3 separate regions of the Homo sapiens genome follow, and all the other regions are linked to region 3. Evidence: fine-mapped expression QTL. A gene starts in region 3. Each other region holds a variant in brackets. All regions are shown on one strand. Distances are between the middles of the regions. Region 1 overlaps ARHGEF18 (Rho/Rac guanine nucleotide exchange factor 18). Region 2 overlaps ARHGEF18 (Rho/Rac guanine nucleotide exchange factor 18). Region 3 holds the start of ARHGEF18 (Rho/Rac guanine nucleotide exchange factor 18).

The links.
Region 1: its variant is fine-mapped to the expression of ARHGEF18 in skeletal muscle (GTEx, PIP 0.97).
Region 2: its variant is fine-mapped to the expression of ARHGEF18 in whole blood (TOPMed, PIP above 0.99).

What each region holds. Positions count from the first base shown.
Region 1 is chr19:7,430,167-7,438,342 of GRCh38, reverse strand. All of the region lies in intron 10 of ARHGEF18 (Rho/Rac guanine nucleotide exchange factor 18), which reads right to left. Among named protein-coding and RNA genes, the nearest start is that of ARHGEF18-AS1, 39 kb to the right of the region's middle. RefSeq lists a silencer at 1,919-2,106. The variant T/C (reference allele first, on the strand shown) is at 4,430.
Region 2 is chr19:7,455,181-7,463,356 of GRCh38, reverse strand. ARHGEF18 (Rho/Rac guanine nucleotide exchange factor 18) reads right to left here. Exons shown (of 29, transcript NM_001367823.1): 18 at 6,954-7,030; 19 at 4,667-4,845; 20 at 3,363-3,454; 21 at 1,023-1,205. Among named protein-coding and RNA genes, the nearest start is that of PEX11G, 30 kb to the left of the region's middle. The variant C/G (reference allele first, on the strand shown) is at 3,500.
Region 3 is chr19:7,345,627-7,353,802 of GRCh38, reverse strand. It overlaps ARHGEF18 (Rho/Rac guanine nucleotide exchange factor 18), which reads right to left and starts at 4,866. Exons shown (of 29, transcript NM_001367823.1): 1 at 4,562-4,866.

The sequences.
Region 1 (8,176 bases), 85 kb before region 3:
GATCGCTTGAGGCCAGGAGTTCAAAACCAGCCTGGGAAACATAGCAAGACCCCGTCTCTACACAAAATAAAAAAATAGCTGAGCACAAGTGGCGCACGCCTGTAGTCTCAGCTACTCGGGAGGCTGAGGCAGTAGGATTGCTTGAGCCCAGGAGTTCAAGGCTGCAGTGAGCTATGATTGTGCCACTGCACTCCAGCCTGGGTGACAGAGCGGGACCTTCTCGAAAAGAAGAGGGGAGGAGAAGGGAGGAGAGGGGAAGGGAGGGGAGGGGAGGGGAGAAGAGAAGAGAGAAGAGAGGAGAGAAGAGGAGAGGGGAAGGGAAGGGAGGGGAGGGGAGGGGAGGGGAGGAGAGAGGAGAGGAGAGGAGCTTAGAGAAGAGAAATAGAAATCTGATTTGTCAGATCAGGTGCAGTGGCTCATGCCTGTAATCCCAGCACTTTGGAAGGCCGACGCGGGTGGATCACCTGAGGTCAGGATTTTGAGACCAGCCTGGCCAACATGATGAAACCCCATCTCTACTAAAAATACAAAATTAGCTGGGCATGGTGGCGGGCACCTGTAATCCCAGCTACTCGGGAGGCTGAGGCAGGAGAATCGCTTGAACCCGGGAGGCAGAGGTTGCCGTGAGCTGACATCATGCCACCGCACTCCAGCCTGAACAACAAAGTGAGACTCCATCTCACAAAAAAAAAGAAAAAAAAAAGAAATCTGATCTGTCCTGTGGCCTCCTGGCTCCTAGGTCCCGATACACCATTGCCTTGTCTATGTTACAGGAAGAGAGCAGCTAGAAGTCTCTTTCTTGGGAACACGGAGTTATAAACCATGGGGTGGGCAGAGCTTACCCTAGGGAAAACGTACTCGCAGCAGCTCTCCTGGGAGAGGATTCAGCATTCTCTGAGCAACTTTTTTTTTTTTTTTTTGAGACGGATTTCCGCTTTTGTTGCCCAGGCTGGAGTGCAATGGCGTGATCTCAGCTCACCGCAACCTCTGCCTCCCAGGTTCAAGCGATTCTCCTGCCTCCCGAGTAGCTGGGATTACAGGCATGTGCCACCACACCCGGCTAATTTTGTATTTTTAGTAGAGACGGAGTTTCTCCATGTTGGTCAGGCTGGTCTCGAACTCCCAACTTCAGGTGATCCACCCACCTCGGCCTCCCTAAGTGCTGGGATTACAGGCTTGAGCCACCGTAGCCGGCCTCTGAGCAACTTTTAATTTAGCTGTAAATTGAAGGTGATTGTTAACGAGCAGGTGAGTGTGTGTTAGAGATTTTCTGGCAGAGGAGTCAAGAATTCTTGCCAATTAAGACATCAGCCACTAAGCTGTGTAACAGCACATTGCACATATACTCAGTAGCTGTTCATTCTTTCCACAGCCCAGCACAGCAAAGATGACATTTGTTCAGAGGCCAGAAACATTCTGACGTCATAACACATGACTAACAATTACTATTGTTATAGGAGACAAAGCAATTGAAGATGTCACTCACAAAGCAACACCTATGTAAAAAAACAGGAATCCTAAACCAAAGGCGACACGGTCCAGGACAGGCATTTCTTGCCATTTCTGTACAACACTCAACTCCACCCAGGCAATTATGACCTAAACGTACAAATATGGCGCAAATCCCGAGATGTATCCTTTGCCCAGCAGCATCCTGGCAGGGCTGACAGATGGTTGCTTGTGGACTGAGGTCTTGACTGAAATCAGATTAATTCTGCTCTAATACAATAGTCCATAGAAGAAAAAGTCACTAAAAATAGCATCTGGCTGGGTGTTGTGGCTCACACCTGTAATCCCAGCACTTTGGGAGGCCGAGCGGGGTGGATCATTTGAGGTCAGGAGTTCAAGACCAGCCTGGCCAACATGGGGAAAACCTGTCTCTACTAAAAATACAAAAATTAGCTTGGCAGTGGTGGTGCACACCTGTAATCACAGCTACTCAGAAGGCTGAGGCAGGAGAATTGCTGGAGCCTGGGAGGCAGAGGTTGTGGTAAGCCGAGATCATGCCACTGCACTCCAGCCTGGGCAGCAGAGTGAGATCCTGTCTTGAAAAAAACTAAAACCAAAAAACCAAACAAAAAAAACAGCATGTAAGCAATGCCAATTCCCAAAATCAAGTTGATGGCAAAAAAAAAAAAAAAAAAAGAAGAAATGCTGATTCCAAAGAATTTTAATAAACTATTGGTAATGCTAAATCTATGGGAATATATGTAAACCCTCCTTTGATGATTTAGAAGACACTGAAGTTTTCACATGTTGGGGTCATGACCAGGGACAGCAGGTTAGAGACCAGTCTGGGCAACACAGTGAGATCTCGTCTCTTAAAAAACAACAACAAAAAATTAGGCAGGCATGTTGGTGTGTGCCAGTAGTTCCAGCTACCTGGGAGGCTGAGGTGGGAAAATTGCTTGAGCCCTGGGGTTCAGGGCTGTGGTGAGCTATGACTGCCCCACTGCACTCCAGCCTGGGTGACAGAGCAAGACTCTGAAAAAGAATGAAATGAAATAGAATAAGAGGTGGACAGTCATAAATTGAGTCTTCCTGGAACACATGCGGCCACTGAAATAGCTGATGGGTCAAGACATGAGTCAGTGGCCCTGCCACAGACCCGCTGTATTGATTATGTCCTTTTATTCCGGATTTGTGATGCTCTGACATCTTGGGGCTTTGCTGACCATGGATGCACAGCCCCTCCCAGGCCAGTTTCTAGAGACAGTAAAGGGTCTGCACCCAGTGCAGAGCTCAGACCCCCAGTTGCCTCCTTTATGGGGCTCTCACACTCCTGGCCACGGTCCCGCTGCCCTCATCACCTCGGGGCCCCATCCTGAACCTGCTCACCCTGCCTGGCCCATTTGTTCCCCGGGAAACCACAATGAAGACTCCTGTCCATATTTTCCCCTCTGTCCCTCAACTGACCCTGGTGCTTCCCCATGTGGCCCCTGTGTGGTGTGCCCTGCCTCCTGCTTCCAGAGGACTGTGAATATAAACTTCTTCCTTCCTGACGGTCATTTCTGGGTCTGTGAGTCTCACCATACTGGGTTAAGACAAATCCTGGGTACCCTAAAACACCAGCTGCCCAGAGGCCAGAAGTCTGCTTGCCAGGGATGGGAGAGCCTCAGATCTTCTGACGCCTTTTTTTTTTTGAGATGGAGTCTCGCTCTGTCACTCAGGCTGGAAAACAGTGAGGGTGATCTCGGCTCACTGCAACCTCCACCTCCCAGGTTCAAGTCATTCTGCCTCAGCCTCCCGAGTAGCTGGGATTACAGGTGCCTGCCACCACGCCCAGCTAATTTTTGTATTTTTAGTAGAGATGGGGTTTTGCCACATTGGCTAAGCTGGTCTCAAACTCTTGACCGCAGGTGATCCGCCCGCCTTGGCCTCCCAAAGTGCTGGGATTACAGGCGTGAGCCACTGCGCCTGGCCTATGGTGTTTCTTTTTGGGGTTCTAAGATCCATTTCGGTGACTCTGAATATACTAAAAGCCCCTGGGTTGTACTCTTAAATGGGTGCATTGTATGGTCTGTGAATTACGTCTCAATAAACCTGCTCAACCAACAAACTCACACCTGTGATGGACAGGCTTCTTTCTGTGGGAGGAGAGCAAAACATCTGATTTGCAGCTCAACATATGGTGGGAATTAGTCGCTCTGCTCTTGGCTCCGAGAGAGACAGGGATACATATTTATCTCCTGCTACGGTTTTTCCTACAGCAGACGGCCATGGTGCTTGGGGTTCAGCTTGTGCTGTCCAGCACTTTCTGTGCAGCTGCAAAAGCTACTCAGAGTCTAATTAGCGCCTCCTGCCCACTGCTGAGAGGTGCGATCGATTAGTGAGCACCTGGCCCGCTGTGGCCACTGTATGCCGCAGAGCTCTTTCTGCAAGGGGACCTGGAGGATGGATGGAAAGAGGTGAACGGTGAAAATCAAAACAGTTCTGACCTGAGGGGGAAAAAATATACCCTATTCTCAGCAACAAACACAGACAGTGGCCTATCCTCAGGGTGATTTTTAAAAGTTGGTTTTGTCTTGGTTTCATGAATTCAAGAGTAGTCCCTGGCCAGGCACAGTGGCTCATGCCTGTAATCCCAGCACTTCGGGAGGCTGAGGTGGGAGGATCGCTTGAGGCTAGGTGTTCGAGACCAGCCTGGGCAACATAGACCCTGTCTCTATAAATTTTTTGTTTTTTTAAAAAACACTAAAACAAGAGCAATCTCTGAGCAAGTTAGATGACAAAGCTTTCGTAACAGGTGTCAGGATCCCACCTGCATTACTTTACTGGGACAAAAGACTCCATACTTTTTTTTTCTTTTTTTTTTTTTTTTTAATGAGACAGATCTCACTCTGTCGCCCAGGTTGGAGTGCAGTGGTGTGATGTCAGTTCACTGCAACCTCCGCCTCCTAGGTTCAAGTGATTCTCCTGCCTCAGCCCC[T/C]CGAGTAGCTGGAATTACAGGTGCCTGCCACCATGCCTGGCTATTTTTGTATTTTTAGTAGAGATAGGGTTTCTCCACGTTGGCCAAGCTGGTCTCAAACTCCTGGCCTCAAGTGATTCGCCTGCCTCGGCCTTCCAAAGTGTTGGGATTACAGGCCTGAGCCACCGCACCCAGCCTAAGACCCCAGACTTTTTCCAGTGCCGCTGTGCTTCCTTTGTGACTCAGTCTCTCATAAATCCTGTAAGCCACAGGCTTTGTCCTCTGACAGCCAAGCACACTCCTTATTAGGTCTTACAGGAACAGGACTCACCAAAAATTACATGAAAACGGCTGAGTAGTTACTAGCCTGTTCAAAGTGATGTCCAAGAAAACCTGATACACTTTTTTTTTTTTTTTTTTTTTTTTTGGAGACGGAGTCTTGCTCTGTCACCCAGGCTGGAATGCAGTGGCATGATCTTGGCTCACTGCAACCTCCGCCTCCCTGCAGTGGTGCAATCTTGGCTCACTGCAACCCCGCCTCCTGGGTTCAAGTGATTCTCCTGCCTCAGCCTCCCGAGTAGCTGGGACTACAGGTGTGTCCAACCACACCCAGCTAATTTTTGTATTTTTAGTAGAGACGGGGTTTCACTATGTTGGCCAGGCTGGTCTCAAACTCCTGACCTCAGGTGATCCACCCGCCTTGGCCTCCCAAAGTGCTGGGATTACAGGTGTGAGCCACCGTGCCCGGCCTGCCTTCTTTTTTTTTTTTAAAGAGAGACACATTCTCGCTCCATCATCTAGGCTAGAGTACAGTGGCATGATCACAGCTCACTGAAGCCTCCAATTCCTGGGCTCAAGGGATCCTCCAGCCTCAGCCTCCTGAGTAGCTAGGATTACAGGTGTGTGATACCATGCCCAGCTAATTTAAAATTTTTCTGTAGCAACGGGGGTCTCATTATGTCGCCCAGGCTGGTCTTGAATACCTAGCCTTAAGTGATCCTCCCGCTTCGACTTCCCAAAGTGCTGGGATTATAGGCATGGGCCAGTGTACCCGGACCTGATATGACATATTAAGTGACTGTCTTAATTGGTTTCAAACTGTCCTTTATAAATAATCTAGAGGCACACTGACTTCCAGAAATGCCAATTTGTAAGCAAGAATTGCCTGTCTTAAATTGCAGATTCCTATATAGCCTCTCACTTGTAAAGGGACCCCAAACATCTTTTGAAGGCAGCTGGGCCCTAGTCCATAAGTCTCCAGTTTTCTGCAAAGGACTATTCAAGAAACAAACAGGGCTGGGAGTGGTGGCTCAAGTCTGTAATCTGAGTACTTTGGGAGGCTGAGGCAGGAGGATCCCTTGAGCCCAGCAGGTCGAGACTGCAGTGAGCTATGATGGCACCACTGTATTCCAGCCTGGGCGACGTAGTGAGACCCTGTCTCTGAACAAAACAAAAACAAAAAGAAAGAAACAAGTGAACCAGACAAGCACCTCGGTTTCAAGGCCTGGTCTCAGAAATAATGACTCCTTTTCTCACATTTAGGGAGGTTTTCTGTCCCCACCCATCCTTCTGTTCTTTGTTTCAGCCAAGACTTTTCTTTTAGGCTGAGAGTGCAACCTGGCTCTAGAGAGTTCTAGCAAGCACTGGCTTACTGGTGAGTGTTCGAGAGACAATTAAAGAAAATCTGATGCCAGATGAAGTTTTCAGTTCACAGTTCCTGCCTTTTCGGCCACCTGGGAATAGACTAAATCGATGAGAAGATGACTTCATTGATTTCTCTTTCTTGCCTCATTTTGATGTTACACAAGCAAGACAGTATTAAAAAGAATAAAAAGGTAGGAGGAAGAAAAAAACCCCTTCATCCCGCACCTCAGGGGACAAAGAAAAATTAAAAAAGACATCTTGCAGCTTAGAAGGTAAGTATGACTCAGAATATTCTTCCCAAACCTGGTACTATCCAAAAACAAAAAACAAAACGAAAAGCCTCCTACCCCAAACTACACGTCAAACCCCCAAAATACCATTTAAAAAAATGTGGTAATTCGTAGCAACAGGTACTATTTATTGAGTGCTTCTTGCATTCCAGGCTGTGTCCTGAGGACTTAGTATTTCTTTTGTTTGAGCTGGAGTTTCGCTCTTGTTGCCCAGGCTGGAGCACAATGGCGCAATCTCGGCTCACCGCAACCTCCGCCTCCTGGGTTCAAGCGATTCTTCTGCCTCAGCCTCCCGAGTAGCTGGGATTACAGGCATGCGCCGCCACGCCCGCTAATTTTGTATTTTTAGTAGAGACGGGGTTTCGCCATGTTGGTCAGGCTGGTCTCAAACTCCCGACCTCAGGTGATCCACCCGCCTTGGACTCCCAAAGTGCTGGGATTAAAGGCGTGAGCCACTGAGCCCGGCCTTTTTTTTTTTTTTTTTTTTTTTGAGATGGAGTCTCACTCTGTCGTCCAGGCTGGAGTGCAGTGGCACGATCTTGACTCACTGCAACCTCCGCCTCCCAAGCGATTCCCCTGCCTCAACCTCCTGAGTAGCTGGGATTATGGCCGCCCACATCCATGCCCAGCTAATTTTTATATTTTTAGTAGAGACGGGGTTTTACCATGTTGGCCAGGCTGGTTTCGAATGCCTGACCTCAAGTGATCCGCCCACCTCGGCCTCTCAAAGTGCCAGGATTACAGGGGTGAGCCACCGTGCCCGGCCTCACTTAATATTTCTTAAGTCCTGCAGTCCTCACAATGACTCAAAAGTAGGTACTACTGTTATTTTATCTTTTTATGTTTTGAAACAGGGTCTCACTCTGTCGCCCTGGCTATAGTACACAGGCACGATCACGGCTCACTGCAGCCTCAACCTCCTTGTCTCGAGTGATCCTCCCACCTCAGCCTCCCGAATAGCTGGGACCATAGGTGTGTGCTATCACACCTGGCTAATTTAGAGATGGGATCTGGCTATGTTGCAAAGGCTGGTCTCGAACTCCTGGACTCAAGTGATGCTTTTGCCTTGGCCTCCCAAAGTGCTGGAGTTCATTTTTGTTATGAAGTATAACATTTAGGTTGAGGATGGTTGGTATATTTATTTATTGTCTATGGATGTGGGCATTATTGTTCTATTTTATTTACTTATTTATTTGAAGAGAGGGTCTCGCTCTGTCACCCAGGCTGGAGTACAGTGGCACAGACTTAGCTTACCGCAGTTACGAATTCCTGGGCTCAAGCAGTCCTCTGGCCTCAGCTTCCCAAGTGGCTGGGACTATAGGCGCATACCACCATGCCCAGCTAATTTTTTAGATATTTTTATAGAGATAGGGTCTCCCTATGTTACCAAGGCTGATCTCGAACTCCAGGCTTTAGCTGTCCTCCCACCTCAGCCTCCCAAAGTGCTGCGATTACAGGCAACACCATGCCTGGCCTGTGTTAATTTTGGGAGCTGTGTATTTGGGTACAGTGGCTCATGCCTGTAATTCCAGCACTTTGCAGGGCTGAGGCGGGAGGATCACTTAAGGTCAAGAGTTTGAGGCCAGCCTGGCCAACATGGTGAGACTTCATCTGTCAAAAAAAAAAAAAAAATTAGCCAGGCATGGTAGTGTATGCCTGTAGTCCTGAGCACTCGGGAGGCTGAGGCAGAAGGATCGCTTGAGCCTGGGACCTTGAGGCTGCAGTGAGCCATGATCATGCCACTGCACTCCAGCCTGGGTGACAGAGCCGGCCTTCATTTCTTTTAAAGAAAAATAAAAAATGACAGGGAAGTATCTCAAAAGTTAAATCCACC
Region 2 (8,176 bases), 110 kb before region 3:
TGGCCAGGCACAGAGGTGGGGACAAGAACATTCCAGGCCAAGGTGCGGGATATGAGAGTGTCCCCAGGGGGCCAAGAACAATGGCCACTGGAGCCGGGTGGAAGGATGTCAGTGGGCCTGGAGGGAGAAAGACTGACCCCCGTCTCTGCCGTCTTATTCTGCGGAAAGGCTCTGGAAGGCAGGGGCTGAGTCGGCTTCCCTCACTGTTGAAAGAGCAGATTGAGGCAGGGCGCGGTGGCTCACGCCTATAATCCCAGCACCTTGGGAGGCAGAGGAGGGTGGATCATCTGAGGTCAGGAGTTCGAGACCAGCCTGGCCAACATGGTGAAACCCCATCTCTACGAAAAATACAAAAATTAGCTGGGCGTGGTGGTGGGTGCCTGTAATCCCAGCTACCCAGGAGGCTGAGGCAGAATTACTTAAACCCAGGAGGTGGAGGTTGCAGTGAGCCGAGATCACGCCACTGCACTCCAGCCTGGGTGACAAAGCGAGACTCCATCTCAAAAAAAAAAAAAAAAAAGAAAAGAAAAAAAGAAAGAGCAGACTGGGCGCTGACTGCCTGCTCAAGCGGCCAGCCCAGGGGCCTGGCGGCTGTGTTAGAGCTGTGCGTGGGGACCCACTGAGGGAGTGTGCGTGTGTTTTTCTGGGGATATCACCAGGACCCACCTCCCAGGAAGAAGAGGAACCTCTGGTAGGTAGGGAACCAGTCTTAGTCAACTTCAGATCCTCCCCACGGCCCGGCTTAGAGCCTCTGCATGCAGGGAGCATCAGAGCGGTTGTTGAACGGGGAGAAAGTGCTTTATGTCTGCAAGGAGCGGCTTGGCCCAGATTATGTCTAAGGCCCTTCTGGCTCTCACAGGCACCGGGGGGCGGTCAGTGCTGCTCCTGGGCCCCCCCCACATAGAAGCCTGTCCTGGACAGGGTGCCGTGTCGGCCACAATGAGCCGTGAGCCTGGCCTGGGGTTCCCTGAGGAGCCCACCCCGGCAAGACTGCACCCTTGAGGTGTGGGCAGCCAACTTACTCTCGCTCATGGCCGACTTGAGAATTAGCTCCCCCTGCAGGGTCTCGGATGGGTCCCCTCCACGGAATAGGCCTCGGGGCTGGGGCAGGTCTTCGAGGCCGCCCATCTCGGCCATCTCCAGGTAGATCTGCTGTTTCTCTAGGAGGCTCTGTGCGATCAGCTGGTCTTTCATGCTCAACCGCTCTGCAGAGTGATGGTGGAGGTGGCAGTCAGCCGGGTCGGCCTTCCCTGGAATCATCTGAGCCCCGGGGACTGGCCTAAGGATGAGGAACCCCGCTGGCCCTGCCCTGAGGTAGGCTGCCCCCTTGTGTCCTGCATTCCTGGGAGGTAGGGGAGGGCATGGCCTTGTCCTCTGATTATTTTCCCCCTTGTTATAAAAATCAGGTTAGCTGTGGTGGCTCAGGCCTGCGATCCCAGTACTTAGGGAAGCCAAGGTAGGAGGACTCTTGCGGCCTGGAGTTCGAGACCAGCCTGGACAACATAATGAGACTCTGTCTCTACAAATAAAAAATTAGCTGGTTGTGGTGGTGCATGCCTGGGAAATGAGGCAGGAGGATCGCTTGAGCCCAGGAGTTCAAGGCTGCAGTGAGCTATGACTGCAGTACTGTACTCCAGCCTGGCCAACAAAGCAAGATCCTGTCTCTAAAAGAAATAAAATAAAATCAAACACAGTAGGGTGTGAGTGAGGATTGTATCAGGCCCATTTATTAGTCTGGGACCAACTTAGAGCCTTAGAAAACTGAATTTTCCATCCTCCCTTTCTTTCTTTCCTTCCTTCTTCTTTTGAGAAGGAGTCTCGCTCTGTCGCCCAGGCTGGAGTGCAGTGGCACAATCTCGGCTCACTGCAACCTCCACCTCCCGGGTTCAAGCGATTCTCCTGCCTCAGCCTCCCGAGTAGCTGGGACTATAGGCACGCACCACCATGCCTGGCTAATTTTTTGTATTTTTAGTAGAAACGGGGTTTTGCCATCTTGGCCAGGCTGGTCTCAAACTCCTGATCTCAAATGATCCACCTGCTTTGGCCTCCCAAAGTGCTGGGATTACAGGCGTGAGCCACCGCACCCAGCCTAATTTTTAAATTTTTTGTAGAGACAGGGTTTTGCCATGTTGTCCAGGCTGGTCTCAAACTCCTGGCTTCCAGTGATCCATCTGCCTCAGCCTCCCAAAGTGCAGGGATTACAGGCATGAGCCACCATACCAGGCCACTTATTGTTTGAGTATTATCCAATTTAGAAATGAATAATACAGGGCCGGGAGCGGTGGCTCACGCCTGTAATCCCAGCACTTTGGGAGGCCGAGGCAGGCAGATCACGAGGTCGAGAGATTGAGACCATCCTGGCCAACATGGTGAAACCCCATCTCTACTAAAAACACAAAAATTAGTGGGGCGTGGTGGCGGGTGCCTATAGTCCCAGCTACTCGGGAGGCTGAGGGAGGAGAATCTCTTGGACCTGATAGGCAGAGCTTGCAGTAAGCCGAGATCACGCCACTGCATTCCAGCCTGGTGACAGAGCGAGGCTCTGTTTAAAAAAAAAAAAGAAGATAAAATAAAAAAAAATACAGACAGTGAAAGGGAAGAAGGGAGCTTGCCGCAGGCTACAGGGCACCAGGAATTGTTCTTGACAAAGTGCTCACTGAGCGCGGGCGAACCTTAATACCACACCTCGAGAGGAGCCAGACCCAAAAGGCCGCGCGGTGTGACTCCATTTATGTGGAATGTCCAGGGCAGGCCAATCTACAGGGACAGGAAGTAGATTCCTGTTGCCAGGGTTGGGGCATGGGGTGGGGAGTGACTGTTAAGGGGGACGGGGCTTCTTTCTGGGGTGGTGGGATGTTCTAAAGTTAACATGATTCTGGCTGCATAATTGGAAATGCACTGAAATGCCCCTGAACCCCACGCTTGGGAGGGTGAGTGCTGTGGTGTGTGAATTACATCTCAATCGTGTAATTAAACAGGGAGGAGGAAGCTCTGGAAGGAGGCTGTGGGGACCCTGTGCTATTCCTTCGTATGGGACTGGGATGCCCTGTTGAGCTCCTGGCTGCACGAGGATGGGGTGGTGGTGGCGTGTGTGGCTGTGTGGTCGGCTCTGGAAGGGGCTCAGGTCCTCTGGGCTCTCCTCCCTCCCTCTCCCACATACCCCCAAAGGGCTAAGTGACCTCTGGAGATCGCTATGTCATGGCACAGCCCGTTCTAATGCTTCACAGAGCTGCAGGACATGGCACAGCCCACGGGAAAACACCGGGTCACCTGGGGGGCAGTTCACCCTCTGTGGCCAGTCCTGATGGAGGGCCCAGGGCTCACCACACAAGGGGTGTGCCCAGACGCTGTCTCCCGCTCACCTTGAAAGTCCCGGAGTCTCGTGGCGCGGGCCTCGACCACCTTCCTTTCCTCTTCGGGCAGGCTGAAGGGCCCCTCCTCCTCGTCAGGGCAGCTGCAGGGAGAGGAGTCGGGTGGGTAACTGTGCTTCCCAGGCAGG[C/G]CAGCCTCGGCACAGACGCTGGTTCTGCAGAACCAGCCGCCACGACCGTCTCTGACTTTGGGAGTGATTTAGCTTGTTCGTGGTGCAGGAGGACGAGGAGGGGAAGAGAGAGAGCCACTGACATTCATCCCGCCCCAAAGCGCCAGGGCATAACCAGGAAGAGGCTTTACATGCCTGCCTGTGACTTAGAGGAGGAGTCCAGGGGACAGCGGGCTTGCAGAGGACCTGCCAGGTGCAGGTGGGTGGCTGCAAGCCCCGTAGAGCTACAGCTACTGTGGATGGGGGAGTCTGAACCAGATTAAGGCACCAGGAAGCCTCCGGGAATCAAGAGAGGGAGTGGACAGGCATGGTGGCTCACGCCTGTAATCCCAACACTTTGGGAGGCCAAGACAGGAGGATGGCTTGAGGCCAGGAGTTCAAGACCAGCCTGGGCAACACAGTGAGGCCCCATCTCTACAAAAATAAAAAATCTAGCTGGGTGTGGTGGTGTATGCCTGTAGTTCAAGCTACTTGGGAGGCCGAGGGGGTAGGATGGCTTGAGCCCAGGAGTTTGGGTTGCAATAAGCTATGATTGTGCCAGCGCACTCCAGCCTGGGTGATAGAGCAAGAGCCAGACTCTAAAAAACAAAACAAAACAAAACAAAATAGGCTGGGCGCAGTGGCTCACGCCTGTAATCCCAGCTACTCGGGGAGGCTGAGGCAGCAGAATCGTTTGAACCTGGGAGGCGGAGGCTGCAGTGAGCCGAGATTGCATCACTGCACTCCAGCCTGGGTGACAGAGCAAGACTCTGTCTCAAAAAAATAAAAAATAAAGAGAGGGAGGGGAAGCCAGCTGGTTCTGGGCCCTGAGGGGTGCTCGGCCCAAGGAGGAAGGACAAGATGCCATGCCCTGCTCCAACAAATCTGGCCCTAGAATGCAGAGAGCCCGCCATGGCAGGTGCAGTGGCCCACGCATGCAGAAAGGCCCAGGTTACAGCTGCCTTTCTGGGCCCGTTGGCCTCAACGTCCAACAGGTTGAGTCATCAGAAGGAGCTGGAATGGCGTCATGGGTCCCAAGCTGGGATGAGGGAGTTCAAGGTCACAGCTGATGGCCAACGGTCGAAGCCAAGGGTGGACCAATCAGCGGAAGGAACACAGTGGGTGGGGAGACCCCCAGGCCCTCCTCACCTCTCCACAGCCCTTTGGATGTGGGCCATCCAGGCGTTCCTGTCCTCTTTGGAGCTCGTGTAGATTTCATACATCTCCGGCCCTTGCAAGGAGGCGCTGATCAGAAACATCGCTTTCTCCTCGTTGGCCACTTCCCTCACGATGAGCTTTTGTAACGAGATGACGGGTGGCTTTGAGTCCTGCATGAGTAGAGGGCATTGGGGAGGTCACCCTTTACCCCACAGCACCCAAACAGCAGGGAGGTCAAGGGCCTGGTGAGGGGAACTAAGAGTGGGGGTCACGCTCCTCATTTCTTTTCAAACAATTCAAAGCGGAAATATTTTGCCATCTGGGGGAAAAAAGATACTATTGCAGTGAAATCCTAGAAACCTTTTTTTTTTTTTTTTTTTTTTTAAACTATCTTGGAGGCCAGGTCTTGCTCTGTCACCCAGGCTGTAGTGCAGTGGTGCAATCATTGTTCCCTGCAGCCTTGACCTCCTGGGCTCAAGTGATCCTCCCACCTCAGCCTCCTGAGTAGCTGGGATTATAGGCACGTGCCGCCAGGCCCAGCTAATTTTTGTATTTTTTGTAGAGATGGGATCTCACTATGTTGCCCAGGCTGGTCTTGAAGTCCTAGGCTCAAGTGATCCTCCTATCTCGGCCTCCCAAAGTGCTGAGATGACAGGAGTGAGCCATCTTGCCCCTTAGTATCCCGATAATGTGTCAATTTCATCAGCTTAAAAATTTTTTTTTAAATAGTCGGCAATGCACATACACACGAGAAAGCTCAAAAGATACAACGGTATGTAGTATATAACAACAGATAAACCCATCTCTGTCTTGTGCCTCAGGCCACCCAGAGCCACCGGTATTTCTAGTCTGTCACGCATCCTTCAAGAGACAATGCTTCCACAGACCAGCAAAATGCACATTTTAACTGGCTAGAGTGGGCTACACTGTGTTCCCCACAAATTCATATGAAGTCCTGAGCCCTAGCACCTCAGAATGTGGCTGTCTTTGGAGATGGGGCCTTTAAAGAGGTGATTAATGTGCGGGTGTGGTGGCTCACTCCTGTAATCCCAGCACTTTGGGAGGCTGAGGCAGGCAGATCACTTAAGGTCAGGAGTTCAAGACCAGCCTGGCCAACATGGTGAAACCCCATCTCTACTAAAAATACAAAAAGTAGCCGGGTGTGGCGGCAGGTGCCTGTAATCCCAGCTACTCAGGAGGCTGAGGCAGGAGAATCACTTGAACTCGGGAGGTGGAGGTTGCAGTGAGTCGAGATTGTGTCATTGCACACTCCAGCCTGGGCGACAGAGTGAGACTGTCTCAAAAAAAAAAAAAAAAAAAAAAAAAAAGAGAGGTGATTATGGCAAAATGAGATCATATGGGCGGGCCCAAATCCAATCTGACTGGCATCCTTCTAACAAGAGGAGATTAGCACAGAGGCACACACAGAGGGATGGCCACTCGAGGACACAGAGAACAGATGAGCACATGGCTGCCTACAAGCCAAGGGGCCTCAGAAGAAACCAACCCTGCTGATACCTTCATCTTGGACTTTCAGCCTGCAGAAACATGAGACAATAAATTTATGTGGTCTAAACCACCCAGTCCATGGTACTTTGTTTACAGCAGCCTCAGCAAACAAATACACTGGTTAAGAACACACCAGCAGCTGGGCACGGTGGCGCACGACTGTAATCCCATCACTTTGGGAGGCCAAGGCGGGAGGATCACTTGAGGTTAGAAGATGGAGACCAGCCTGGCCAACATGGTGAAACCCCGTCTCTACTAAAAATACAAAAAATTAGCCAGGCGTGGTGGCGGGCGCCTGTAATCCCAGCTATGTGGGCCTGGAAAACTCACAGGTGCCCCTTCCATGGGCAGTTTCAGCCAACCTCCCAACAAGGTCACAGCAAGCAGGGCCCTTCGTCTGTTTTTTGTTTGTTTGTTTTGTTTTTTTGTTTTGAGATAGAGTCTCGCTCTGTTGCCCAGGCGGGAGAGCAGTGGCGCAGTCTTGCTGGAGAGCAGTGGCACAATCTCAGCTCACTGCAACCTTCACCTCCTGGGTTCAGGTGATTATCCTGCCTCAGCCTCCTGAGTAGCTGGGACTACAGACATGGGCCACCATGCCCGGCTAATTTTTGTATTTTTAGTAGAGGTGAGGTTTCACCATGTTGGCCAGGCTGGACTTCAACTCTTGACCTCAAGTGATCTGCCCACCTCGGCCTCCCAAAGTGCTGGGATTATAGACGTGAGCCACAGCACCCAGCCGACCCTTCGTCTGAAGAGACAGGATACATACCACAGAAGCAAAGACGTATTTCTGATCTTTTTCTTGTAGCAGCAAAAGTACGTCGGTCAGCAGGATAGCCAGGATATCTGGGAAAACAGCATGGAAGGATGCATCTTAAAAGTCCCATAGCCAGGAGGTCTTGCTGGCCACCCCCGCGGATGCCACTTCCCAGGAAGGTGTAAGCAGCATGATGCTTCTGCCTGGGCCTAGAAGTTTCCTTTCTGCCTTGCCTGCACCCCCCATCACCTTTCCAGGTCTCAACCTTCAGCACCAACGAGCAGCCGGAGCCTCCTCTAAGTCCCTTCCGTGTCCAGAGCTCAAACCAGGGCTCCCGCCCATGTCAGGCCACTGTGCCCGGCAATTCTCTTTGCTGTAACAACACCTGCTGGGTCTGACCTTTGAGAATCTGATACGGTTTGGCTGCGTCCCCACCCACATCTCATCTTGAATTCCCACGTGCTGTAAGAGGGACCTGGTGGGAGGTAATTGAATCATGGGGGCAGATCTTTTCCATGCCGTTCTCGTGATAGTGAATGAGTCTCACAAGATCTGACAGTTTTATAAGGGGGAGTTTCCCTGCACAAGCTCCCTCTCTCTTTGCCTGCTGCCATCCATGTAAGACTTGACTTGCTCCTCCTGCCTTCTGCCATGATTGTGAGGCCTTCCCCCACAGGTGGAACTGTTTAAGTCCATTAAACCTCTTTCTTTGGTAAGTTGCCCAGTCTCAGGTATGTCTTTATCAGCAGCATGAACACGGACTAATACAACATCTCTCCCTCTGATGTCTCAGATGTGAACGGAGCTCTCTGTTCTCCCTGCTCCTGGGTCACCAGGACCCGAGCCACAGCAGCGATGCAGGCCAGGGGTGGTCTCAGTCCCCTCGTGCCCCTCAGTCCCCCTTGGCGCCTTGTCCCTGTATGAACCTCTCGTGCTGTAAGGCTTCCTGCACATAGATGCAAATCCTGAGCTGCGTTTCAAGGGCAACGCCACTTTTGGGGAGCTGCTTCCAACACCCCTGTCTAAGTCAGATACGCTTTTGCTAATTCTCTCACACTGCAGCCTGCTGGCTTCCTTAAAGCATGTGCTGGACTTCTAACTAGTTTTTCCGTTTTTTGGCTTGTTTCTCTCTTTCAGCCCAGTGACTGATGCCTTAAAAGGCTAGGCACCAGGTCTTGCCCGGTGGGGTGTATTCCTACCATCCAACTCGGCGCCTGGCAGGCAGAAGGCGCTAA
Region 3 (8,176 bases):
TTTTGTATTTGTAGTAGAGGCAGGGTTTTGCCATGTTGGCCAGACTGGTCTTGAACTCCTAACCTCAGGTGATCCTCCCACCTCGGCCTCCGAAAGTACTGGGATTACAGGTGTGAGCCACCACACCTGGCTAAATCTCACTTTAAAAAAATACAACAGGGATATCTATTTCTTTTTCTTTTTCTTTTCTTTTCTTTTTCTTTTTTTTTTTTGAGATGGAGTTTCACTTTTGTTGCTGAGGCTGGAATGCAATGGCGCAATCTCGGCTCACTGCAACCTCTGCCTCCCGGGTTCAAGTGATTCTCCTGCCTCAGCCTCTCAAGTAGCTGGGATTACAGGCGCCCGCTACCATGCCTGGCTAATTTTTTGTATTCTTAGTAGAGATAGGGCTTTGCCATATTGGCCAGGCTGGTCTCGAACTCCTGACCTCAGGTGATCCAACCACCTCAGCCTCCCAAAGTGCTGAGATTACAGGCGTGAGCCACTGCACCCAGCTGGAATATGTATTTCTAATGATGGCAGGCTAGCTTATTGCAGATTTATTCTCCCACCAAGAACAAATAGAAAAGCTGGACAAAATTGGAAGAGTGAAAAACCACCCTTGCTTGGAAGGCATTGGCAGTCAGAGTTGGAAGAATCACGGCCCTGGAAAGAAAGGAAACCTAGGGGCCAGGCGCGGTGGCTCACACCTGTAATCCCAGCACTTTGGGAAGCCGAGGTGGGCAACTCACTGGAGGTCAGGAGTTCGAGACCAGCCTGGCCAACATGGTGAAACCCCGTCTGTACTAAAAATACAAAATTAGCCAGGCATGGTGGTGGATGCCTGTAATCCCAGCTATTCAGGAGGCTGAGGCAGGAGAATCGCTTGAACCTGGGAGGCAGAGGTTGTGATGAGCCAAGATCATGCCACTGCACTCCAGCTTGGATGACAGAGCAAGAGTCTATGTCAAAAAAAAAAAAAAAAAAAAAAGGCCAGGCACGGCGACTCACACCTGTAATTCCAGCACTTTGGGAGGCCGAGGTGGGCGGATCATGAGGTCAGGAGATCGAGACCATCCTGGCTAACACTGTGAAACCCCGTCTCTACTGAAAATACAAAAAAATAGCCGGGCGTGGTGGCAGGCACCTGTATTCCCAGCTACTCGGGAGGCTGAGGCAGGAGAATGGCGTGAACCTGGGAGGTGGAGCTTGCAGTGAGCCCAGATCATGCCACTGCACGACAGCCTGGGTGACAGAGTGAGATTCCATCTCAAAAAAAAAAAAAAAAAAAAGGAAACCTAGGAAAGTGAGAAGGACATAATGTAATGCTTTTCCCTCACAAACAAGTTGTTGATTTGAACACAGTTCTTGAGTGAGTGGGAGGCAGACCAGAAAAAGCCTGAGAACCTGAATGTAGCTCTTAGCAATCTTATGTTGGGGAAATAAACATTGGAATTCAGGGCCCAAAAAGAGGAGGTGATTGCCACCCCTAAAAGACTACACCCTAGGAGCAAGGAGGGACCAGACATAGACTAGCCCTCACCGAGAGCAAAATCCATCTTCAAGTCAGCATAGGTCACAATCAGATTAAAGTGATCTTTCCTTTCTCTAACTGCCTGCCCAAAGCAAAAATAAACGCTCTATGGAGGAAAATGACACCATAAAGAGACACAAATTATCCCTATAGTTTTTCACAAACAAGGCCTGGCATTTAATCAGACTACCAGGCATACTAGAAGACAGAACCTCATGACCAAAAAACAAGAAGAAACACAGACAATAGCAACAGCCCTACAGGAGATAAAGATGCTAGAATTAAAAATACAACAGGCCAGGTGCAGTGGCTTACATCTGTAATCCCAGCACTTTGGGAGGCCAAGGCAGGTGGATCACCTGAGGTCAGGAATTCAAGACCAGCCTGGGTAACATGGTGAAACCCTGTCTCTACTAAAACTACTAAAATTAGCCAGGTGTGGTGGTATGCATTTATAATCCCAGCTACTCAGGAGGCTGAGGCAGGAGAACTGCTTGAACCCAGGAGGTGGAGGTTGCAGTGAGCTGAGACTGTGCCACTGCACTCCAGCCTGGGCAACTCTGTCTCAGAAAAAAAAAAAAAAAAGAGAGAGAGAGAGAGGCAGAGAGAAAATACAGTAGCATATGATACAGGGATGGCTGGATGGGATCCTTAAGAAGTCCACTCTAGCTGGGCACAGTGGGTCATGCCTGTAATCCCAGCACTTTGGGAGGCTGAGGTGGGGGGATCACAAGGTCAGGAGATCAAGACCATCCTGGCTAACACGGTGAAACCCCGTCTCTATTAAAAATACATAAAATTAGCCGGGCATGGTGGCGGGCGCCTGTAGTCCCAGCTACTTGGGAGGCTGAGGCAGGAGAATGGCGTGAACCCGGGAGGTGGAGCTTGCAGTGAGCCGAGATCGTGCCACTGCACTCCAGCCTGGGCAATAGAACAAGACTCCATCTCAAAACAAACAAACAAACAAACAAACAAACAAACAAAAGAAGTCCACTCTAGCAGACTTGCTTACAGATTGAGATCCACCATGGGTATGACCCAGAACATTTCAGAAGATGGTGGGACTGCTCAGGAAGGAAGGCCTGGGGACAAGGTCAGTATGAAGGCATAGGTGAGGCTGACAATGTTTTCTGATCTATTACGTGCCAGACACTGCACTAAGATCTCACAGACCAAACTTCATAAAGGCTGAGCGAGGTGGTTCATGCCTGTAATCCCAGCACTTTGGGAGGCCAAGGCAGGCAGATCACCTGAGGTCAGGAGTTCAAGACCAGCCTAACCAATATGGTGAAACCCTGTCTCTACTAAAAATACAAAAATTAGCTGGGCATGGAGGCGTGTGCCTGTAATCCCAGCTACTTGGGAGGCTGAGGCAGGAGAATTGCTTAAACCCGAGAGGCGGAGGTTGCAGTGAGCTGAGATTGCACCAATGTACTCCAGCCTGGGCGATAGAGCAAGATTCTATCTCCAACACACACACACACACACACACACACACACACACACACACACACACACACACCCACCCCAAAAAACTCAACAGCCTTTTAACAGATGAGCAAACGAAAGCTCAGAGCAGTTAAGTCATTTGCCCAAGGCCACATAGAGGCCAGGGAACTGGGATTTGAACGCCCAGCTGTCCAACACAGTCACCATGTCATCTACAACAGTATCGAGCATCAACATATGCCCATCCCTTTGTCATGGGCTAGGGGATGCCCAGGGAGGCATGGGAGACAGCCCAGACCAGAAGCACCGACGTGTTTGCAGTTGCCATCTACTGGTTCTTCAAGGCATAATGAAAAGGCTGCCTCTACCAAGCAGCCCTCCCAGAGTGACTCCCAGTCACAGCAAGGGAGTTGAAATGTGGCTGATTATGAGGGCAACCCTTTCCTGACCTCCTTTGGTTGTCATGTTCTTTTCTCAGAACTGCAGGTGACCTGGCCTTGGAGCATCAGCCCCCAGCGTCACTTCCTAGCTCCATCCTCTCTGGCCCCAGCTGTCCACTCTAGCTCAATTCACTCCCTCCTGGTTCTGGGGCCACCTTCCTAGACCTCAGGGTGCCTGAAGCCTGCCCTGCAGCATTGGGGGCTGGCAGGAAACAACAGACTGGGTGTGCCCAGCAGAAACCGCAGCCTTCCTCCCCCACCCCTCCCAGTCCCAGGCAGGCGGTGGTGCAGGAGGTCCCCCTAAGAAGGGGCCACGAGAGGAGACAGGGGATGTCTCCCAAGGGGGAGAACCCTCACCTGGAGGAAGGCTGCCTGGGTGGAGGGATGTGCTCTCTGGATGATTTCAGATCAGGACAAGACCCTTCTCAGGGCTGGTTGTCAGCCATCAGCCTTAAGTGTGAGTTTGTTTTGACAGTGGATTCAGAATCTGCAACAGGGAGGTTCTTGGGGGGCCCGGAATCTGCAGTTTAAGATGCAAAGGGCACCTGAGCCTTTGCCCCAGCTCCCCCATTCATTCTCTGTCTCCTGTCTCCACGCAGGAGGGCCTTGGCTACAAGGAGCTCTATCGTCCTTTCTTTGCTTTTCTTTTTCTTTTCTTTGTTTTGAGACTGAGAGGCTCACTTCAACCTCTACCTCCCGGGTTCAAGCCATTCTCCTGCCTCAGCCTCCCGAGTAGCTGAGATTACAGCTGCCCGCCACCACGCCTGGCTAATTTTTGTATTTTTAGTAGAGACGGGGTTTCACCATGTTGGCCGGGCTGGTCTCCAACTCTTGACCTCAAGTGATCCGCCCTCCTCAGCCTCCCAAAGTGCTAGGATTACAGGTGTGAGCCACCGCGCCCGGCCTCCACCCTCCTTTCTTACCTAGCAGCCCCTCAAGGATCCCCGTCCCCTGGGGTGACCTCTTATGACCACAGATCTCTGCACAATGAACGCAAGGGTCAAACAGCTTCCCCCACCCACTCAGGAAGCAAGTTGACTGCAAGGGGGAGAGAAACAGTGATGTATGTCTGCTCGCTGTCCCCCTAGACTTCCCAGACCCCACTGCCACTCTGTCCCGATGGGTCCATCTCTCTCCACTTCCCAGGATAAGTACTTACCAGATAGAGCTCAGTTCTTCAACCTGCAGGCACCTAGCCTGGCTAACAGCTCCTGCAGCTCCCATGACCTACGGCCAGCGTTTCGAGCTGGCCCAAGGGAACCGCTGGCTGGGTAGAGCCTGGGATAACCACAGAATGACCCAATAGCACCTCGACTTCCTCTTTCTCAACTGCCTGCCTGCATGCTTGCCACTCTGCTCCCAGCTGCAGGCCAATCTAGGGGCCTAAAAAGAGCCCAGAGGATGGGGGTTCTGGAGGCAGAGAGCCCTGCTCCCACCCCTCAGCCCTGCGCATGCAGGTGTCTTGAGGAGGAGGGGTGGGGAGCTGGAGGGAGGCCCAGCGTCCTCAACCCCCACCCCAGCAGCTTCCTGTGGAACCAACTGCTGAAGAGGAACAGGGTGTGGGGGCCTCACCCAGGCACATGGGTGTATAGACAGCAACATATAGGGACGTGCAGGTCATGTGTATCCGTAGAGACTCAGGCACCCAGACACACACCAGCATGGTGGGTACACACAGAGAGACAGAAACACACGTGGCTACATTGTTACATGGGTACCTGGAAGCTGGCGGAACAACATGGTGTGCTGGTAACGTTTAACAACCACCTCTCCGATTTGTAGCCATTGCCAATTCTCCTGGTGTAAATACCCCCAGCATGGCCGATTTCACCTACCAGTGTGATGTCACCGAGTGTGGAGTTGATAGGAAATGCTCAGATTTGGCTTTTTTTAGAAAACAACAACAACAACAACAAAAAACTGTTTATTTTATTTTTAGAGATAGGGTCTCATTCTGTCATCCAGTCTGGAGTGCAGTGGAAAAATCATAGCTCACTGCAGCCTCAATCTCTTGGGCTCAAGTGATCCTTCTGCTTCAGCCTCCTGAGTAGTTGGGATTACAGGCACATGCCACCATGCCTGGCTAAGTTTTTTGTTTACAGATAATTTATGTATAATTTATATATACTTTATATATAATTATATATGGATTATATATAGACTTATATATAATTTATATATAATTTTTTATATATAATTTTTCTTTTGAGACAGGCTCTCACTCTGTCATCCAGGCTGGAGTGCAGTGGGGGTGATTTTGGTTCATTGCAACCTCCATCCCCTGGGCTCAAGTGATCCTCCCACCTCCGCCTCCTGAGTAGCTGGGACCACAGGCACACATCACCACGCCTGGCTATTTTTTTTTGGTTTGTATTTTTAGTACAGACAGGGTCTCACCATATTGCCCAGGCTGGTCTCGAACTCCTGGGCTCAAGCAATCCTCCCACCTTGGCCTCCCAAAGTGCTGGGATTAGAGGCACGAGACATGGCGCCCAGCCTAAGTTAATTTTTTTTTTTTGTAGAGACAGGGATTTTATTATGTTTCCCAGGCTGGTCTCAAACTCCTGGGCTCAAGCAGTCCACCCGCCTTGGCCTCCCAAAGTGCTGGGATTACAGGCATGAGCCATGATGCTCCACTAAACTTGGCTCTTGGGCTGGCTTCAGCCTGTCACTGGAGTGAGTACTCTACAAAAAATTTAAAACTTCGCCACATTTGGTGGTGCCTGCCTGCAGTCCCAGCCGCTCCGGAGGCTGAGGCGGGGAGGCTCACTTGAGCCCAGGTGTTCAAAGCTGCAGTGACCTATAATTGTGCCACCGTACTCCAGCCTGGGTGACAGAGTGAAATCCCATTTTTTTTAAAGAAAGTTAAAATGGTAAATTTTACGTTATGCCTATTTTACCACATTTAAATTAATCACTTTAACATTATTTTTGCTGCATTTTCCATAATCTATGCTTTTTTTCCTTTTCCTTTTTTTTTTTTTTTTTTTTTTTTTTTTTTTTTTGAGATGGAGTCTTGCTCTGTTGCCCGGGCTGGAGTGCAGTGGTGCAATCTCAGCTCACTGCAACCTCTGCCTCCTGGGTTCAAGTGATTCTCCTGCCTCAGCCTCCCAGGTAGCTGGGATTATAGGTGACCCCCACCACACCAGGCTAATTTTTGTATTTTTAGTAGAGACGGGATTTCACTATGTTGGCCAGGCTGGTCTCGAACTCCGGACCTCAGAGGATTCGCCCACCTCAGCCTCCGGAAGTGCTGGGGTTACAGGTGTGAGCCACCACACCTGGCCTCATAATCTATGCTTTTGATGTTGCTTTTGTGTATGGAACCTGTTTGGTAGAAATACTGTATAATGGTTTGCTGCTGTCCATATCTTTCTGACTCACTGTTCGGTGGCATCACTTGAAATTGGCTGTGGCGAGAGTATTTACACCATGAGGACTGGCAATGCTATAAATCAGTGCTCTCCACTGGAGAGGTTCAACATTTACCAGCACACTACTGCACAGCGGTGCACACAGATGGTTTTGGGATACTGCACAATCACACTTCACACATGGTCACACATAGGCACAGGGACTCACAGAGGCAGATACAAGTGTGCACAACTACATGTAGGAGCCACCCCACACACAGAGGACACGAGACACATGCACGTGCACAACAGAGCACAACAGCGCTGCACAACAGGGCTGCAGGCTCCTGGAACACAAAGCTCAAGGACACACCCAGAGGACACACAAGGATACGCAAACACAGACACGTGTGCTCATGGGCACAACTTCACACAGGAGCATGCAGTGTCATGTGGACATGCAGAATGGGCATGCAGACACACATACACAACAAACACCCCGACACACATGTGGACTCACAGCCACAGTCACACAGAACACTCACACACACACACACACACACACACACACACGAGCAGATGCTGCTGGCCAGGCGCGGTGGCTCATGCCTATAATCTCAGCACTTTGGGAGGCCGAGGCAGGTGGATCACCTGAGGTCGGGAGTTTGAGTCCAGCCTGGCCAACGTGGTGAAAACCCATTTCTACTAAAAATATAAACATTAGCCGGGTGTGGTGGCATGTGCCTGTAATCCCAGCTACTCGGGAGGCTGAGGCAGGAGAATGGCTTGAACCCGGGAGGCGGAGGTTGCCGTGAGCCAAGATCATGCCACTGCACTCCAGCCTGGGCAACAGAGTGAGATTCCATCTTAAACAACAAACAAAAACAAAACAACAACAACAAAAAAGAGCAGATGCTGGCCACCTCTGAGAACACCTCTGGAGACACTGACTTGCACACCGGTTGCCACGGGACCACTCAAAATCACTAACACACAGACCCGGAAAGCCCTCACCACAAACACTCACTGGCCCATAGCGCCGCGCTTGTCCCTGGGGACACAGGTGGGGCCATCCCCAGAATCACACCAACGAGACACACACAGAACACAAGGAGACACAGATATACACAGATTTGCACACACCCATTCTGTAACCAGTTGATTATTTCTTTCAGGCAACATGCATTTATCGAGCACCTACTGTATGCCAGGCACTGTGGCAGGTGTGGGATCACGGTGAACAAGACAGACACAAACCCCCGCCCTGCAGGAGCTCCAGCTGGGGGAGGCAAACAGTGAATCAGGAAACACACCTAGGAGATAAATTCAGGTGCTGTGAATTGCCGCAACAGGAAGTAAACAGAGTGATGCGATAGAGTGGGTGGGGGAGGTTGATGCTTTAGCTGGGAAGGTCAGGGAAG